Linked DNA regions of Homo sapiens. The protein of the gene in region 3 interacts with the protein of the main gene of each other region in a biochemical or structural test. Each region holds a gene or a part of one and is shown on either strand. Other genes may lie near its edges.

Region 1 (7,117 bases), on a different chromosome or scaffold from region 3:
GGAGAGACTAGGGCAGAAGACGCACTTTGAGTGGTCCTCATGAAGGCATTTAGAGCTGAGGCACTGGGTGATATGGATCCCTGGTGAAGGTGTAGATGGAGAAGTGGAGGGTCCAGGGACTCGTTCTTGAGTCACCCCAGACCCTTGATCTGGCAAAAATGAGACTGACCCAGCAAGGAGGGAAAGACAGGACGACTAGGTGGTAGATAAACCTGGAAGTGAAGTGAAGAAAAAAGTGTAAGATGTGATCAACCTTGTCAGATTCTGCTGAGGATGCAAGTACGGGGAAGGTGGAATTGACCCTTGGGTTTGGCAGCAGTAGGTGTCAGCCATGAGCCTGACAATGTGGTGGAGACAAAAAAGCCAGGTGGGGATGGGCTCAGGGGAGGGGAGAGGAGCAGTAGAGGTGGCAAGTGTGGACGGTTCTTCTGGAGCTTTGCTGTTGGAGAGGAGGGGGTCATTGTTAGCAACGATAATAGAATAAAGAGGACTTTTATTTTATTTTATTGTTTTGAGACGAAGTCTCGCTCTTTTCCCATAGGCTGGAGTGCAATGGTGTGATCTCAGCTCACTGCAACCTCTGCTTCCTGGGTTTAAGTGATTCTCCTGCCTCAGCCTCCCGAGTAGCTGGGATTACAGGTGACTGCCACCACGCTCAGCTAAGTTTTGTATTTTTAGTAGAGACGGGGTTTCACCATGTTGGCCAGGCTGGTCTCGAACTCTTGACCTCAGGTGATCCGCCCACCTCGGCCTCCCAAAATGCTGGGATTACAGGTGTAAGCCACCATGCCCGGCCTAAAGAGGACTTTTTTAAGGTAGCAGGTATGCCAGTAGGCTGCACAGGGATGGAAGTGATCCATTAGAGGAGAGATGATGGAGCAGCAAGACCATCAGGAGTGAAGACTCCGTGACAGAGGATGGGACGCAGTGCCCAAGGGGAGGTTGGCCTTGCAGGGAAAGCACATGCCTGTCCCTCCCTCATTAGCTTCATTTGGACAAAACATGTAAAATCCGGTGTGTTGTGGAGGCCTTTTGATTGGGGAACTGTAACGCTGCCTATCGAGCAACAGCACTTTAAGCAGGTGGCTTTGTTCAAATTAAAGGTTCTTCTTTTTCTTTTCAGGCATCATGGACCGATCTAAAGAAAACTGCATTTCAGGACCTGTTAAGGTAAATTGAATAATCTGTAATCTCATTCACATTTATAAACCCACATGGAGGTTGGTCTTGTCGGGAATTCTTTCCGCCTTTACTTTGGATTTAAATTTAGATCCCTTACTGTGATCCTGGATATGAATTAGTCACTTTTCTCGTGTTCAGTAACATTTTGCTGCTTCTTAGAGTAGCTTTTTTGTTCTGCTTTGTCTTATAATCGGCTGCTTAAGTTTCTATATCCCTCCACTGTATGCAGGATAATAGTAATAATGCATCTGGCAGGAGTTCAAAACTTTTAAAATTGGCCATAAATATAAAATAATTAGAAAAAGGCTACCTTGAATTACTGTATTTGATTCTAAGTTCCTATGATAACGGCCATTTAAAAAATTGCTCTATATTTAAAATGTTTCTTTTTATTTGTCTTTGTCTGAATGCCTGCTGCGTTGTGGACAGTGTGCTAATTTCAGGAGTAACTGACTTTGTATTTGGAAGTCTTAACACCCTCTCTTTGTAGAGCACTCATACCGTTGAGCTGGGGATGGACTTTGAGGCTTTCATTTCTAGCACTTGTCCCTCACTTACAATGAGCTGTTGAAGCTGAAGGAAATCTCATCCCTCCTACCCCTTTTAGTTTGATTAGCTGAGGGTGTTAGAGTTAACTTAACAATTTAAGGTTGTAATACAGTACTTACAGGCGTATAAATAATACATTTCAAGGCTGGGCGCGGTGGCTCACGCCTGTAATCCCAGCACTTTGGGAGACCAAGGAGAGTGGATCACAAGGTCAGGAGTTCAAGACCGGCCTGGCCAAGATGGTGAAACCCTGTTTCTACTAAAAATACAAAAAATTAGCCAGGCGTGGTGGCAGGCGCCTGTCGTCCCAGCTGCTTGGGAGGCTGAGGCAGAGAATTGCTTGAACCTGGGAGGCAGAGGTTGCAGTGAGCCGAGATCATGCCACTGCACTCCAGTCTGGGTGACAGAGCAAGACTCCATCTCAAAAATAATAATAATAATACATTTTAGTAGTAACTTTGTGAAGTGTCTACATTTGTTTCCTCTTTGTCAGTTTTTTGCTCAATTCCATTTTGTCAATACTTGGAAAATGAAACATTGGTTAATCAATAGTACAGTAATAAGCTTATTGTGGAAAATCTTCGATATATGAAAACTTAGACTCTTCTAAAACTTCATGAAGATAATACCACTGTTGAACGTTTTGACGTATTTTTTTTTGGTCTTTTTCTTAAACGTATATTATCAAAGAAATTTCAATGGAACTGAGATTTTGGCATAAAGTTTTTGTATCATAGCTTTTTGCCAAATAGCAATGTAGTGTCTATTTCCAAATTATTGAGAAATTTTAGAAAGTGTCTCCTTCATTAATGGATATTTGTTAATAAAGCATGATTTTTAGGGGTGAGGAATTGGAGGGGATAGAAGGTATCATTCAGGTATTCTTAGCCACATACTAACTATCCTCTGGAGGTACTGATTAAAATACCTTTTCACCTTCCATCTCTTATCAGTGACATTCATTATTTTGCTATACTAGAGAACAAACTTTGTGAAATTCTCAATATATTCATCTTTTGCTTTCATGAATGCCAGAAAGTTTATTTTCTCTTCCATTCTAGGCTACAGCTCCAGTTGGAGGTCCAAAACGTGTTCTCGTGACTCAGCAATTTCCTTGTCAGAATCCATTACCTGTAAATAGTGGCCAGGCTCAGCGGGTCTTGTGTCCTTCAAATTCTTCCCAGCGCATTCCTTTGCAAGCACAAAAGCTTGTCTCCAGTCACAAGCCGGTTCAGAATCAGAAGCAGAAGCAATTGCAGGCAACCAGTGTACCTCATCCTGTCTCCAGGCCACTGAATAACACCCAAAAGAGCAAGCAGCCCCTGCCATCGGCACCTGGTAAACTAGCTTTTGAGACTCATTGGATAGTCCTTCTTTGTCGTCGTTGCTAAAAAAGCCAGTGTATATACTTGCACTTATTGTTTGGAGCCTTAGCTTTTATATCTGTTGAGGATGGGGAGAAAATATGGTGTCTGGGTTGAAGTAACAGTGTCTGCCCATGGGCCAGACCTATGCTAAAAATACAGACCTGATTCTCACCCTCTTGGAAGAGTTGGGCACCCAGGGAGGACACAGCATAAATTGGTGTCCTTTTGATTGCTTGTTACTGAGTCTGGATGTAGGGTGCTTGCAGTAAGTGACTTGAAGGGACTGAGATCTAAAGTGTGGGGGAAATCCAGAGAAGTGGGTGAACTGAGGCAGGCTGCGGTGAGGTCACCATGGGCATTGCTGGCCATGTTAAGGAATGGGGCCTCATCTCTAGGGCATTTGGAAGCTACTGAAGCTTTTTTGAACTCAGAAGGGAACTCTGCCTTTTAGAAAGTTTACTGTGGAAGGCCAGGCGCAGTGGCTCACGCCTGTAATCCCAGCGCTTTGGGAGACCGAGGCAGGTGGATCACCTGAGGTCAGGAGTTGGAGACCAGTCTGACCAACATGGAGAAACCCTGTCTCTACTAAAAATACAAAATTAGCCAGGCGTGGTGGTGCACGCCTGTAATCCCAGCTACTCAGGAGGCTGAGGCAGGAGAATGGCTTGAACCCAGGAGGTGGAGGTTGTGGTGAGCCGAGATTGTGCCATTGCATTCTAGCCTGGGCAACAAGAGCAAAATTCTATCTCAAAAAAAAAAAAAAAATTTACTGTGGAAGTACTGAATAAATTGGAGTAGAACGCTGGATTTAGGAGTACCAGACAGGAAGGAGGTTGAGGTCAGAGATGGCAATAACCTGCTCTGTGTGGAGCAGAGTGGATGCAATTATTTACCAACTGTTGAGTGCTCATTCCCTGCAGGCTCTGAGATAAGTGCGTGCTTCATCCACGTCATCTCTTTCAATCTTCGTAACCACTTCATGAAGGTAGCCAGTTATTAACTCAGTTTTACAGAGGAGGAAGCTAAGACTCAGAAGCAGTTAACTTATCCAAAGACAAGCCAGGATGGAGAGGTGCACACAAATTTGAGAGCTCATTTACGATGCAGACTCATTAGAACTGGGCAATAAATTGTACCTGAAAGATGAATAAAGAGGAGTTAGGGATGGTGATTAGATTGATATTAATTGAGTGAGTGTCCTGGGGGTTGAGGGGTGCACATGTGACAGGGGCATCTGGAGGAAGAGTTTGGACCAGCATCCAGATATCTGAGCAGAGCATTGTGTGCTGTTCGAGTTTGCTATGTTGGAGACAGACCAGTGGAAATGTTTCATATGTCCTTGTGGCTGATGAAATAGTTACCCCAGTCCTCTGCTGCACAACTGTTCATTGTGCATTTTGCTGAATTGGTGGCTTTTATTTTTATATTTCCCCTTGGCAGCTAATATAAATGGAGGGTGGCTGGCTTATGTTTTGCTACATGTTGGTGATAATTCGTATGTAGGGTATGGACTGTTGGCTGGCCCACCTAGTAAGGGGAAAAAGGTGACGAGTTGGCAGCTCGTCATGCATGGGAAGATTGGTACTTCTGCCACAAAAGCTCTTCTTTGGAAACTGAGGCTTCAGAAGAGCCTGCATAGTCTGCCTTTAATTTATCAGAGAAGGGCCTGTCTATATATACGTCTGCTCATCTTTAGAAATTCTATAAAGGCTTCACATGATGGAAGTCAGGGTGTAGTAGTCCTTTTTTTCTATAAGGAAAACTTTAAAAAAAAAAAACAGATTTATCATTCTTGACATACCATTAATATTTTGGTGACCAATTCTTTGATTCACCTCTATTCACAGCTTAGCTTATCCTATATAGTTATTCTAAAAACAGGTTTTTAACTTATTCCATATAGAAAATAATCCTGAGGAGGAACTGGCATCAAAACAGAAAAATGAAGAATCAAAAAAGTAAGCTTTCTTATTTACAAAGTTCTGTACTGTTCTACTAGAATATATTATTTCGTTGCAAATTTCGTTGTGGGAACTCTGGGGAAAAAAATGAGGCCTTTATTTGCATTTAGAGGATATAAATGTTTCCAGATTTCCAATCTTAAAAAAAATGGAATTTTGTGTAATGAGGTATTTTACTAGGAACTCAAGTGCTTTAAAAAATGGCTTTCAAATTTAGAAAAAGCTTGTATGAATCTTTTATAGAAATGTGTGGAAGTTCCTCTCTGTCCTTAGAAATAACCACTACATATGGTTTATGCGTCTGTACTTTTTTATTGTACAAAAGTGCAAGTTTTTAAAAAATAGAATATGTTGCAGAACTATATACTCATATATGACTGAGGGTTTTGACAGTATTATAGTTTTAGTTCTTTATTGTAAAGGTTGGCTGTAATGTCTTCCCCAGGGCTTTTCTAAAAGCCTCCTCTCAGTCTCTGAACTATCTGGACTCTAGAATGTACCGGGAGGAGCGAGGAATGAACCCACAGACTCTTTTGCTTTTAGCGGTCTAACAGAGGCTAAGAGTCTAAATCCACTGGTTCTCATGCCCCAGCTAGCCTGTGGGCTCCATCCCGCTTCCATTAGTAACAGTGGCTCTGTCTCCACCACCAGAGTGGTTCTCCACCCAGAGAGAATTAGCACCTCTGGGACTGGAGGGAGCAGCTGGGGTTAGTTTGAAACATGCCCCCAGATGGTCTGGAAGCATTCCTCCCTCTCTGGTCACTTATCCTTTTTGTGGTCTTCAGCGTTGTCATGGCCCTGTTCCTCTGAGCATAGTACGGGCTTGGGACATTTCCCATAGAGTGCTTCAGGTCTAAAACCCGAGACTGCTCCTTGTCACTGACTCTCACACCTGACGGCAGCTAGGGACGTCAGGGTTTCATGTCGTGGCAGCTCTTTGATAGTGGTTATTGCCTTGGTTCTTGCTGAGGATGCATATTGAGTGAAGTTGGAATACGAAATTATTTGTAGAATGTGTCTGCTACTCATTGAAAATTTGTTAGAAAAGCTTTGTTTTCTTCACATTCTAAAGTGTTCAAATTCCTCCTAGGAGGCAGTGGGCTTTGGAAGACTTTGAAATTGGTCGCCCTCTGGGTAAAGGAAAGTTTGGTAATGTTTATTTGGCAAGAGAAAAGCAAAGCAAGTTTATTCTGGCTCTTAAAGTGTTATTTAAAGCTCAGCTGGAGAAAGCCGGAGTGGAGCATCAGCTCAGAAGAGAAGTAGAAATACAGTCCCACCTTCGGTGAGTTTTCAGGTTCATGTTCAAAAGAATGTTCACCAATGCTGCACCCCTCCCCCTCCTGTAATGTCAGCCTCCCACTGCCCAGGTCCCTTCACTCCCTCTTACGAGGCACTGCCTTCAAATGCATGGCCCCGTTCCTCACCTCCCCCTCCCCTATGAAAAAGATTAGATAAGCTTCTGTACTGCACTGGGTTATAAGCATTCTCCTGTGATTCTCCCATGCTCTGCATGTTAAAATAAAATTGTATTCCTTTTTTTTTTTTTAAGTATAAATTTATTTTTTAGAGGGCCTGCTTTTCATAGTACCACAAAAAATGATTAAATTTGTCATCTTTCAAAGAGCACTTAAGTGCTCTGATCCTGGAAAAATCACTTGAGGATTTAATGTTTTGTTAATAGAATAGTTTATATGGGCAAGTCTTTCTGGTGGACAGTGAAGGGGAATGGCACCCCTTATTCTGAGGTATGCAGGAATTGCGAGCAGCTACCTGCAGGTTGACTACGGCTGGTGGGTTTTTGTTTTTCCTTTTTTTCTTTCAGTGTTTTTCAAATTTGAATCAGATGCTAATACTTCAAGTCTGGCCACATCAGGCCTGGTGTGTCTCTGCCTGGCAACACCTGGCTGGGGCTGGGAGGGGCAGGCATCTCACATGGGCTGTGCTTCCCATTGCCTGCTTCCCGCTGGCCACAGTCTGCACCTGCCCAGTCTGCTCAGCACCCATCTACTGCCATTACTGATCACTGCTTTTATCTGTCACAGTGTCTGGGTGTCAAAC
Region 2 (4,730 bases), on a different chromosome or scaffold from region 3:
ATATTCCAAAGGGAAAGAAATAGGATTTTGTGATTTTTCTTTTGAATTGAGATATAACGGGTTTTTATTGGCAAGTGATCAGGGTGTGGAAGCTTGAAGCGATGTAGATTCAGAATACCTTGAGGCGCTTTTTCACACCCCCTTCTGCTGCACTCCTCAACTGTCAGCCTTACAACCAAGGTTCTGCTGTGTTCAGAATCACGGAAAACAGGTGAGCAGATCTGGAAAGCTTGTTTGGAAAGCTCCACAGAGACCGTGGTGGGTGTCCGGGCTCCAGTGTCCTAGACCCAGAGCTGAAAGGGAGGCTCACAATAGGGGACATCTCTTTCAGTCCCCACACTTTTCAGATTGAGAAGCCAAGGCTCAGAGGAATGATTGGCTCACAGTGGCTCACCCAGCGTGAGAGAGACCTAGTCAGGACGAGAACCAGAATTTTCCTGATTTATAACAGAAAGGATATGAGGCTTAGAATCAAAACTGTTTTTGGTCTCAGTTGAAAGCCTTAATTGGTTGTCTGATATTAAGCAACTTGTTTACATCTGATACTCAGTTTTCTTATTGGTAAAATGGAGTTGAAAATATCCACCATCCCACGGTTGTGAAAAGGATCAAATAAGGCATCGCATGAAGGTCCTAGGACACTTTGAGTTGGTATCTTTCCGGTCCTTTGCATGTCAAGTCCATAGAGAGAACTTCCAGGGAAATGAACAGTTCTTTTCAAAAGTGCCTTAAATATTGTGCTTTGTGGCTTTGTAACATTTTCTTTTTTCTGTCTTTTTAGGACAGCCCAGAAACTTGCAGGACCTGTGCCGAATTAAAATTCGACAATGTATAGGCCTTCAAAACCTAAAGCTACTTGATGAACTACCAATTGCCAAGGTCATGAAAGACTACTTAAAACACAAATTTGATGATATCTGATATGCCAGAACTGTGAGCAAGATTAGGAGTTCTATTCTAGATACTTAAAAGGCTTTTTGCCTTGCACAAAGTATATCCTATGCAATTTCTGATTTGCTGTGAAATCAGAAAGCAGGTATACACTTTTGGGTTTTCTGTTTGTTTGGTTGGTTTTCATTGTAGGGGAGGGATTTTTTATATATATATAAAAACACACACCACATGCTTGAAGGTCTTAATTTGGTTTCTTGGTCCAAGTTTAAGAGGTCCAAGCTTTGTATACAATACTGCATTTAGAAAAATTGTCTTTTCTTAAATGACACAAGCAGGTTTAGAGTGGAGAATTTACCCTTTCCAAATTTATGGTTCCTTGGTAAGCACGGTATTCTAAACCAGCAGAGCACTTGTTAACGTTTGGAGGCACAGTTTCACCCAGGGCGACCCTGGGTTCTTTTGGAAAATGCCCTAAGAAATGTTTGAAGTAACGCTGTCACCTCATTCATTTTTAATGAGTACAAACTGGCCGTTTCAAACTGTTCTTTTTCCTAATTAATGTAGCTTTCGGATGACATAAATCCAGTATCTCTGCTTATGACATAAATCCAGTACCTCTGCTTTTCTTTTGCTGTGCTCTTGTTTTTAACTTATTTTTTTTTTAACAACTGTAGTACACTACCCTGAGACACTGCATCTCGATTTCTATCTCTAGTTAGAGTTGTACTTTTAAAAAAATTAACGGGAAAGAAAATAACTTTGTGAAGCCAGTGTATTCTGTTTTTAAAACTGTGCCTGCAGTGCAATACTCCTTCTGGTGTATTTTATCCATTATTTCACTTGCTGGTCGTCATTTCACAGCCAGCTTTGACATGCCCGTGAGGACAGGAGCCGCCGCTTCAGTTGTCACTGCAGAGCCATCGTATGTCAGTTGCAATTTCCATCTGAAGCTATGTCTTTGACTTCACTTTAAGCAGAAAATTTTGTACCCTGGTGGTCGAGTCTTCCCTTAAAAATTGTTAAATCATTTGGCTTTAATGGTTCAATAATTTGGGGTGGCTTCATGGTGTTTCTTTTCTTCCCAGTTTAAAAAAAAAACTTTTTAAGCGTAAAATCTTTAAGGGGTACACATTTATAAGTCTGGCTAATTTCTAATATGCTAATTAAACATTTCCCATTTTAAGGTTATATACAGTGAGGCTCTTCAGGACAATTATTTTCTGGGTTGATTGGGCATATGTTTGCCGTGTAAACACGGATATGATAAAGTGTCAGTAACAATGGAAAAGGTCCCAGAGGCATTAGGCATCTAAGAGGATGCCCTCAGAAACGTATTCTGGCTTGATTTGTGTTATTAACTTCAGAAGAACCTTTTCAAATGTCCCAGTATCGTTCTTAGTGCTTTGGGAAAAAATATTTAACACACTGTTAATAAATTTGTTATCAGAAGTTTACAAGACGAAGGGCTTCTCTCGTCTGAATTTCTAGATTTAAGTCATGAAGTGTAAAACTGTTTCACCCAGAAGTGTAACTAAGCAGAACTAGGAGTTTTCTCTGGCTTCACCTTTTTCAGAGCCAGCAGTGCTGTTTTCTCAAGCACAGCGTTTGCTCTTAGACTCTGATCTGCTTGTGCCTAAGCATTGCACAGGTTTCCGAAGACGGGCAGCTTCAGAGAAGAGGATTATTCGGGAGATTGCTGGTGTGGCCCATAGACTCTTTGGCATAGACTCTTTCGCAGGCAGCCACTCTGAGTGTGGCCAGTTCTATAACCATCCCCAAACTAGCTGGAGCCTGATGGATAGGAACGGGTAGTCTGTCCTCTTCCCCATAAAAATGTTCCAAAAAGTTATCTCCAGAGAGAGTCCCTTATGAAGACAGTTGCCAAGCTGTATTCTCATTCTTTAAACCAATACCCAGGTCAGGGCTAGTTCACACTAGCACTGTTAGGGACATGGTGTGGCTAGAAATGAATTGAGTGTGACTTCTCCCTACAACCCCAGGCCCAGGGATAGGAGGAGGCAGAGGGGTGCCTGGAGTTTCTGCACTCTCATCAGTGATGTTCATGTTACACTTGCACAAGGGCTGATTTCCACGTATGTGTGTGTTAATTTATTCACTTAGTTTCAAAAGATTTTCTCTCCCCAGCCATTCAGAGGTTTCCAAACTAAGCCACTGAGTTTGAGTCAGGGAATTCCACGTAAAAAGATCAGATTAAGGTAAATTCTTTGTTCTGTATTGCTGCTGTGACTTCAGAAAAAAAAAATTATGAGAGCTCTTCCTGGAATTTTGAAATTTCTATTTAATGAAGAAGTGTATAATTCCATTATTTATTGTTTGAGGTTTGATTTATCTGGAAGCTTAAAAAGAATGTTTTATTTTTGTTGTTAATAAAATCCCAATCACATTTCACAATAACTAAAATGTCTCCAGGTGGGTTACTGGTAGATGATAGTGGTGACACCTGCAGGTCTGCATTTGAATTGGATTCACAGAGAAGCATTCCATGGTCACATAATGAATAGGGAGAACAGATATTTTCAGAAAAATCAACCGATTGTTTTTTCCAGAAACAGAACAGAAAATGTTCAGAATATTTTCAAATTTGTCAGATTCTTTTATGTTTCCTTTGAAATTTATTATTTAAGCCTATTACTAAACCTTTATAAAAATATATTTGGCAAATACACCAAAGAAACCAGCTTACAAAAGATTATGATCATTAATGAACTGCAAACCTCATCTTTCGAAAACAAGGTTTTGTGTTTTTTTTTTTTTGTAAATATTTGTGTTTATAAATGTACAGCAGAGTAAGAGTGTTTTTTAGATTATTTAATTCCCATATTTCTAAACTATTTACTACACAGTAATCCATGCCTGTTAGTTTGGAGGACTTGACTGTCTCATTTTTTAATTCATTGTCAGTCATGCTTGGAACAGCATTTCCACTAGAGAATCCAGCGTTCTGGCAGTAGCAAGAGTACACATCTGGAGCATGAGGGACTCTAGCATGACTCGTCAGATGCACACCCCAAGAGACAAGAATGTGTAGTTTAATGACCGGCGTGGACCATACGAAATTGAGATTCTAACTTTCCTGCAGGAGTGCTCATGAGCCCAGAATGTGATTGGGATAAGGCCATTTGCCCACAAATTTAGCTTTCATGTAACTCCTAGTGTGTTATATCATAATGTATTTTGTTCTTCCTTTTTAATGTAAGTTTTGCTTTGGGTCAATTTGAATTAAAAAAATCAAATCTGATTTAAAACATGTTGGAGTTGTATTTTATTTCCAGTCTACCTTAAGTTTTTAATATGTCCAGCTATTTGGTGAAAATAAATAAAACTCTATCCTTCCTTCATCAGCATTTTAGATCGCTGGGAGTTGTTTAAGAATATGATGATGTGGAAAACAATACCACTCTCCATTGTCACCAGATAAGCCATTTCTTACCCTCCTTTAATTTGTTCAATGCATTCTGCAAATACCCACCAACAAAAGATGATCACAGTGTTGAGTGTATCGACCCAGCACTGGGCCTTCTTGGGCCGTAATCGCCACCTGCCCCGTGCGTGCCACACCTTGACTCACGACAGGGTTTAGACCACAGCGCTTCTAAACGTAGGACAGCATGCAGTCAAAGCAATGCATCTGACGGAGTTACCCTGCAGGAGATGAAGCAAAACAACTTTGATTTCACATTTCCTCTATAAAACATAAGCACAGCTTGATTCAGGAGAGACCCGAAGTGAATGTGGATGATGGTGTGGCACTAAGAGAAAGGGAAGAGGGACTGCTTAGCACCCCGTGCAGAGATGGGATGGTTTGGAACTATAAT
Region 3 (7,096 bases):
TTCTTTCAGGGCCTACTGTCTGTCATGTGATACTATACTAGAATCAGGCTGGAATTTGGCGTCTTATTGTCAGAGGCGTTTCGACCAGAGCAATTCCATCTTGAATAGGGGCTGGTTAAATAAGGCTGAGACCTACTGGGCTGCATTCCCAGACAGGAATTCTAAGTAACAAGATGAGATCCTAAGGAGGTCAGCACAAGATACAGGTCATAAAGACCTTGCTGATGAAACAAGTTGCAGTAAAGAAGCCGGCTAAAACCCACCAAAACCAAGACGATGATGAGAGTGACCTCACTGCTACACTCCCACTAGCACCATGACAGTTTACAAATGCCATGGCAACATCCAGAAGTTACCCTATATGGTCTAAAAAAAGGAGGCATGAATAATCCACCCCTTGTTTAGCATATCATCAAGAAATAATCATAAAAATGGGCAACCACCAGCCCTCGGGCTGCTCTGCCTATGGAGTAGCCATTCTTTATTCCTTTACTTTCTTAATCAACTTGCTTTCACTTTATGGACTCGCCTTGAATTCTTTCTCGTGTGAGATCCAAGAACCCTCACTTGGGGTCTGGATTGGGACCCCTTTCCAGTAATATTATTGCTACAAAAAGTCTGTTTCTGGCCAAGCGTGGTGGTTCATCCCTGTAATCCCAGCACTTTGGGAGGCCAAGGTGGGCGGATCACCTGAGGCAGTTCACGGCCATGGCGAAACACCATCTCTACTAAAAATACAAAAATTAGCTGGGCTTGGTGGCGTGTGCCTGTAATTCCAGCTACTCGGGAGGCTGAGACGGGAGAATCGCTTGAACTCAGGAGGCAGAGGTTGCAATGAGCTGAGATTGCACCACCGCACTCCAGCCTGGGCAACAAAGTGAGACTCCATCTCAAAAAAAAAAAAAAAAAAAAAAGTCTGTTTCCTTAGCCTTAAGATCTTTGTGGTTTTGTTGTTGTTATTGTTGTTGTTTGTTTTTTTTGTTTTTGAGACAGTGTCTCGTTCTGTCACCCAGACTGGAGTGCAGTGGCGTGATAGCTCACTGCGACCCCCGCCTCCTGGGTTCAAGCGATTCTCCTGCCTCAGTCTCCCAAGTAGCTGGGATTACAGGTGCCTACCACCATGCCCGGCTAATTTTTTTGTACTTTTAGTAGAGATGGTGTTTCACCACGTTGGCCAGGCTGGTCTTGAACTCCCGACCTCAGATGATCTGCCTGCCTCGGCCTCCCAAAGGGCTGGGATTACAGGCGTGAGCCACCGCCCCCTGGCCAGATCTCTGTTTTAATGTTAATGTTGGTCAGCTGTGCCTGATTCCCAAAGGGCAGAGAGTATAATGAGGCATGTCCAACCCCCACTTTCCATTATGGCCTGAACTAGTTTTCCAGGTTAAATCTGGAATGCCCTTGTCAGAGAGAAGGGGTCCATTCAGTTGGTTGGGGGGCTTAGAATTTTATTTTTGGTTTCCAGCTTCTTGGTCTCTGGTGGCATTTATTACAGTGACATCTCACTCCTGCAGACCTCACCACCTCAACGTCACAGCCAAAAACTAGAAAGTAAACAAGAAAGCCTATAAATGGCCAAAAAAATGGGCATGAACTCTGAGGACTAAAGCTCAGGTTCTGTTTACCAGAAAGCTCCTCAACCATTCCCTTAGGGCTTTTTCACTTTAAATATTCAGAACCTTTCTAGGAGCTCAGTTTATTACTGGAAAGGGGTCTTGATCCATCCAGACCCCAAGTGAGGATTCTTTGATCTTTCAAAAGAAAGAATTCAGGACGGGTCCACAGAGTAAAGTGAAAGTGAATTTATTAAGAAAGTAAAGGAATAAAAGAATGGCTACTCCATAGAGCAGCCCCAAGGGCTGCTGGTAAGCTATTTTTATGGTTATTTCTTGATTATATGCTAAACAAGGGGTGGATTATTCATAGGTTTTCTGGGAAAGGAGCATGATTTCCTGGAACTGAAGGCTCCTCTCCCTTTTATACCATATAGACGTTGCCATAGCATTTGTAAACTGTCAGGACGCTGGCAGGAGTGTCTTTTAGCATGCTAATGAATTACAACTAGCATATAATAAGCAGTGAGGATGACCAGCTGTCACTTTCTTTTTTTTTTTTTTTGAGACGGAGTCTCACTCTGTCGCCCAGGCTGGAGTGCGGAGGTGCGATCTCGGCTCACTGCAAGCTCTGCCTCCCAAGTTCACGCCATTCTCCTGCCTCAGCCTCCCGAGTAGTTGGGGCTACAGGGGCCCGCCACCACGCCCGGCTAATTTTTTGTATTTTTAGTACAGACGGGGTTTCACCGTGTTAGCCAGGATGGTCTGGATCTCCTGACCTCGTGATTCGCCCGCCTCGGCCTCCCAAAGTGCTGGGACTACAGGCGTGAGCCACCGCGCCTGGCCTACTTTCTTTACCATCTTGGTTTCTGGCAGATTTGGCCGGCTTCTTTACTGCACCGTTTTATTAGAGGGATGTTTGAGATCTGTATCTTGTGCGGACCTGCTGTCTCCTCCTGTTGTTACCAGAAAGGGGTCCGGATCCAGACCCCAAGAGAGGGTTCTTGGCCCTTGCATAGGAAATAATTCAGGGCAAGTCCATAAAGTGAAAGCAAGTTTATTAAGAAAGAAAAGGGATAAAGAATGCCTACTCCAGAGGCAGAGCAGCCCGGAGGGCTGCTGGTTGGCCATTTTTATGGTTATTTCTTGATTATATGCTAAACAAGGGATGAATTATTCATGAGTTTTCCGGGAAAGGGGTAGGCAACTCCCTGGAACTAAGAATTCCTCCCCTTTTTAGACCATGTAGGGTAATTTCCTGATGTTGCCATGGTATTTGTAAACCGTGGTGATGCTGTCTGGAGTGTCTTTTAGCATGCTAATACATTATAATTAGCGTATAATGAGGACTGAGGACCTCCAGAGGTCAGTTTCATCGCCATCTTGGTTTCGGTAGGTTTTGGCTGGCTTCTTTACCGCATGCTGTTTTACCACCAGGGTCTTTGTGACCTGTATCTTGTGCCAACCTCCTATCTCATCCTGTGACTTAGAATGCCTAACCTCCTAGGAATACAGCCCAGGTCTCAACCTTATTTTACCCAGCCTCTATTCCAGATGGAGTCGTTCTGGTTTGAAGCCTCTGACAAGTTCACTGGTGGCCCGGGCAACATTTAGAAACAACAGAGACAACACTCCTAACAAGTTGGTTTAAGCATTTTACAAATACTGCTTTTAGTTCAGAGGGGGCTACTTACAAACACCCCCTCTAAATCCCCTAAGGGCACACGGTAGAAAACGCCTTCATAATTATCCTCGTAACACCGTAACTGCGAGGACCAACATCCTCCTTTCACAGATAAGCGAAGAGAGGTGAAAAGAGGGCAAATATACTCAAGGCAGCCGCCTCTAAACCGAAACTTGGGTTCTGAGGTCAGTTAAACTTGGGTTGCATTTGAACCTAAGCCTGCCTGCGTGAAAAGCCCGTTGCTTTCTTTGCACCTCAGCTGCCTCAGGTTCTTGAAGAGGCGATGGAGGATGTACTTCTAAGAGAACCTCAATATACCTACAATATAAGTGTTTAGGTGCTCCCTTAACTTGGAAAAAACCCACAACTGAGGAACCTCGGCCAATGCGGCGCCTGCATATTGAGTGCGCCCAAGAAAACGAATTTCCTCCCGTAGAGCGTCGGTTAGCGGCCACGTTAGGCAGCACAACCGTTCTGGAGACTGGGTGCTCGGCGGCCCAGCAGAGGGAGCGGGGCGGGGCGCGAGTTCCATACTCGTGGGTCCGTTTCTTCCCTCCTGGCCAGCCGCGCTCTGCTCCCATCTGCCTACGGGAAAGAGAGTCTCCGCGCACGCGAGCACGCGCACTCGCAGCCTCAACCCTCGGCTCCGCCACCGGGATGCAGTCTTCTGGGAACGGTTCTCCCCCAGCCCCCACCGGCTGACTTCCGGCCGGCAGCTCCTCAGCCCCTCCCCCTGAGGATTCACCAATCACGGTGCGCGTGTGGCTTGAGTAGGTGGGGCCTGAGAGATTCGAAAGGAGCCCCGCCCCCTCGGAGCTGATTCCCGGGACTAGGTTGCGGGAGAAAGCCTGTTGCGTGGAAGATAAGGCGGCGCGGGAAGTGGACACAGGGTGGGCTGGAGGTGTGCTTCGCGTGTGATGCCAGGGGAGTGGAAAGGTGGCTTGGGGAGTGCAGAACCCTGAGGATAGTGGCGGGGAGGAAGATGGGGCGTGCAGGCCGCCCCCAGTGAGGAGAGGCCAGGATGCAGGGCGGCTCCAGGGCAATCTGGGCAGTTGGGGGAGCCCTCCGTATCGTTCCCGGAGGTAGCAGGAGTAGCTGTGCGGGAGGTGCCACTCCTGGGCGCTTGCTTTGCCTCCAGCATGACCCCCGACCCTGGCTTGCACCCTGAATCTAGCTGCGAGCCTTGGGCAGAATGGATACCTGAGGAAAGGTATGGTTTCTCTCCAGCTCAGATCTAACTGGACTCTCGCTCCTGCTGGCTGGACATGGAGGATTTGGAGGAAGGTAAGGAAAGGAGGGAGGGAAGAATGAAAGGGAGGAGTGAGACCCAGCGATGGAGAGCTGCATCAGGGACCCATGACTGGCTTTCATTCTTCTTTCCCCTTCAGATGTAAGGTTTATTGTGGATGAGACCTTGGACTTTGGGGGGCTGTCACCATCTGACAGGTACCAGCCTCTTTATCCCACTTATTTTCCTCTAACAGTACCTCTTTGTCTCGAATCCCTTACTGCTGAATTATTGGCTTGGGTTGGTAACTTAGCAAGGTTTGGCGCACTTGGGGCTGCTGGGCGGCTGGCTGACTCGGGCCTCTATGACACTATTGGTAGCGGGGAGAGAAGGGAGAAGCTGGAGTTAGATTTCAGGGTGTTAAGAAGAAGGATAAGTGGATTTGCTGCATCTCCATCCTGGCATCATTTCTGATGTCCGTAAATGCTAAAGGCCTATTAGGCCCCATAGAACCAGGTATCTCATCGCCCAGAGGCCACATCTCACAGCCAGCATGGGCATCGGGGCCTAGGGTCATGTCCCTGGCTCTGTTGTGGGGCTTTTATGCAGTCTCCCTTGCATAATCTCCTGTTCCCTTTTGCATGGGCATGATGCCTGGTTTGTTTCCTGTCTCAGCCGTGAGGAGGAAGACATAACAGTGTTGGTGACTCCAGAGAAACCACTTCGACGGGGCCTCTCCCACCGAAGTGACCCAAATGCAGTGGCACCTGCCCCCCAGGGTGTGAGGCTCAGCCTAGGCCCCCTCAGTCCAGAGAAGCTGGAGGAGATCCTCGATGAGGCCAACCGGCTGGCCGCTCAGCTGGAGCAGTGTGCCCTGCAGGATCGGGAGAGCGCAGGCGAGGGCCTGGGGCCTCGCCGAGTGAAGCCCAGTCCTCGGCGGGAGACCTTTGTGCTGAAGGATAGTCCTGTCCGAGACCTGCTGCCCACTGTGAACTCTTTGACGCGGAGCACCCCCTCCCCAAGCAGCCTGACGCCTCGACTCCGGAGTAATGATAGGAAGGGGTCAGTCAGGGCTCTCCGGGCTACATCTGGAAAGAGGCCCTCCAACATGAAGAGGGTGAGTTGAGAGAGTTGAGTTGGAGGTGTGCCCCAGACATGGTGTGTGCCATGATGCAGGGAGTGGTTTCCTTATTGGTAAAACAGGGATAGCATTTCTACATCTAGAATTGTTGGAATTAAATGAGAACCATGAAAAAAGAGAACCAAAACTCTTACCACAGTGTCTGAGTATATGTCTATGATAAACTCAATAAATGGTATTGGCAATAGTGATGGTGATGGTGATGTGGTGATGTTAGCAGCTAACTTCTACCCTTCCTTACTGGGATGTAGACAACTCTCCACCTCTATTTCTTAATTCCTTAAGCCACAGAACAGATATTTTTTCCACTCTAGTCTTTTTTCTCTCTCTCTTTGTGTTTCAGGAGTCACCCACTTGCAATCTGTTCCCTGCATCCAAAAGCCCAGCATCTTCTCCTCTTACCCGATCGACTCCCCCAGTCCGGGGGAGAGCCGGGCCCAGTGGGAGAGCAGCAGCCAGTGAGGAGACCAGAGCAGCCAAGTTGCGGGTGAGTGGGAGTGGGGAGTTTGTGGGATTGACCCTGAAATTTCTCCACCCCTCTCCACCAGGCCCACCCACCCCCATCAGATCCGTCCTGGCCCCACAGCCTTCTACCAGCAACTCTCAACGCCTGCCCCGGCCGCAGGGAGCAGCTGCTAAATCTTCCAGTCAACTGCCCATTCCCTCGGCCATCCCCAGGCCTGCCAGCCGAATGCCACTCACCAGCCGGAGTGTGCCACCTGGCAGAGGTGCCCTACCTCCGGATTCTCTGTCAACTCGAAAAGGGCTTCCAAGACCAAGCACTGCAGGACACAGAGTGCGGGAAAGTGGACACAAGGGTAAGAGGTCAGGAGGAAGAATGCCCGCCCTTGCCCAGCGTGTCCTCACCCTCCCAGAGCTGTCAACAGTGACCACTTTTGCCATCCTTATTGCAATTCAATTGGAAGATGGGGAGACTGAGTTACAGAGAGGATATGGGGCTGGACAGAGTCTGAGTCTTAGTTTTCAAATACCTCATGGTCAGGGGGAGAGTACTAATCCCACACTCGCTCCCTTCATCCAGTATTTCTTTTCGAGGTCAGTTAAACTTGCTGCTAACTCATTTCTTTTGTTAACCCCCATGAAGTTCCTGTTTCCCAGCGACTAAATCTTCCTGTCATGGGTGCCACTCGCAGCAATCTGCAGCCCCCCAGGAAAGTGGCAGTCCCAGGACCTACCAGGTCAGTCTGGTCCTCCCTTGCCCATCCTGTCTCCCTACCCCGCCATCATCTGGGATTCCAAGCTGTTATGCACATCAGCCCTGAATTTTGTATGGAAAGATGGAGAGAGGAGGGGAGCCTGGGGCAGGGGAAGGGGGATCCCATTTCTTCCCACCCTGAGGAGCTTGAATTCTGCTGGGTGACAAATGGGCTTGAGGAAGAAGGGCATTTTAAAGCAGTTATTCCTTCTATTTCTTTAGGTAAAGAGATCAGGACAGCAAGCAAGACTTCAGTAGCAAACCACTACAGTCA

The links.
Region 1: of the proteins of PSRC1 (region 3) and AURKA, one has a biochemical effect on the other in vitro, tested with the Homo sapiens proteins (one study listed by BioGRID).
Region 2: of the proteins of PSRC1 (region 3) and ASB7, one has a biochemical effect on the other in vitro, tested with the Homo sapiens proteins (2 studies listed by BioGRID, with this or other methods).

Annotation. Positions count from the first base shown.
Region 1 is NC_000020.11:56,382,209-56,389,325, reverse strand, and holds part of AURKA (aurora kinase A), read left to right. Parts: intron 1-541; exon of another isoform or gene 542-917; coding exon of another isoform or gene 918-1,014; intron 1,015-1,123; coding exon of another isoform or gene 1,124-1,128; coding exon 1,129-1,170; intron 1,171-2,792; coding exon 2,793-3,069; intron 3,070-5,001; coding exon 5,002-5,056; intron 5,057-6,149; coding exon 6,150-6,341; intron 6,342-7,117. UniProt on the Homo sapiens protein: Mitotic serine/threonine kinase that contributes to the regulation of cell cycle progression.
Region 2 is NC_000015.10:100,647,542-100,652,271, forward strand, and holds the end of ASB7 (ankyrin repeat and SOCS box protein 7), read left to right. Parts: intron 1-781; coding exon 782-921; 3' UTR 922-4,160; downstream 4,161-4,730. UniProt on the Homo sapiens protein: Probable substrate-recognition component of a SCF-like ECS (Elongin-Cullin-SOCS-box protein) E3 ubiquitin-protein ligase complex which mediates the ubiquitination and subsequent proteasomal degradation of target proteins.
Region 3 is NC_000001.11:109,280,105-109,287,200, reverse strand, and holds the start of PSRC1 (proline/serine-rich coiled-coil protein 1), read left to right. Parts: upstream 1-4,055; 5' UTR 4,056-4,138; exon of another isoform or gene 4,139-4,464; 5' UTR 4,465-4,502; coding exon 4,503-4,521; intron 4,522-4,625; coding exon 4,626-4,683; intron 4,684-5,140; coding exon 5,141-5,582; intron 5,583-5,949; coding exon 5,950-6,064; coding exon of another isoform or gene 6,065-6,154; coding exon 6,155-6,424; intron 6,425-6,711; coding exon 6,712-6,805; intron 6,806-7,044; coding exon 7,045-7,048; coding exon of another isoform or gene 7,049-7,080; 3' UTR 7,081-7,096. UniProt on the Homo sapiens protein: Required for normal progression through mitosis. Required for normal congress of chromosomes at the metaphase plate, and for normal rate of chromosomal segregation during anaphase. Plays a role in the regulation of mitotic spindle dynamics.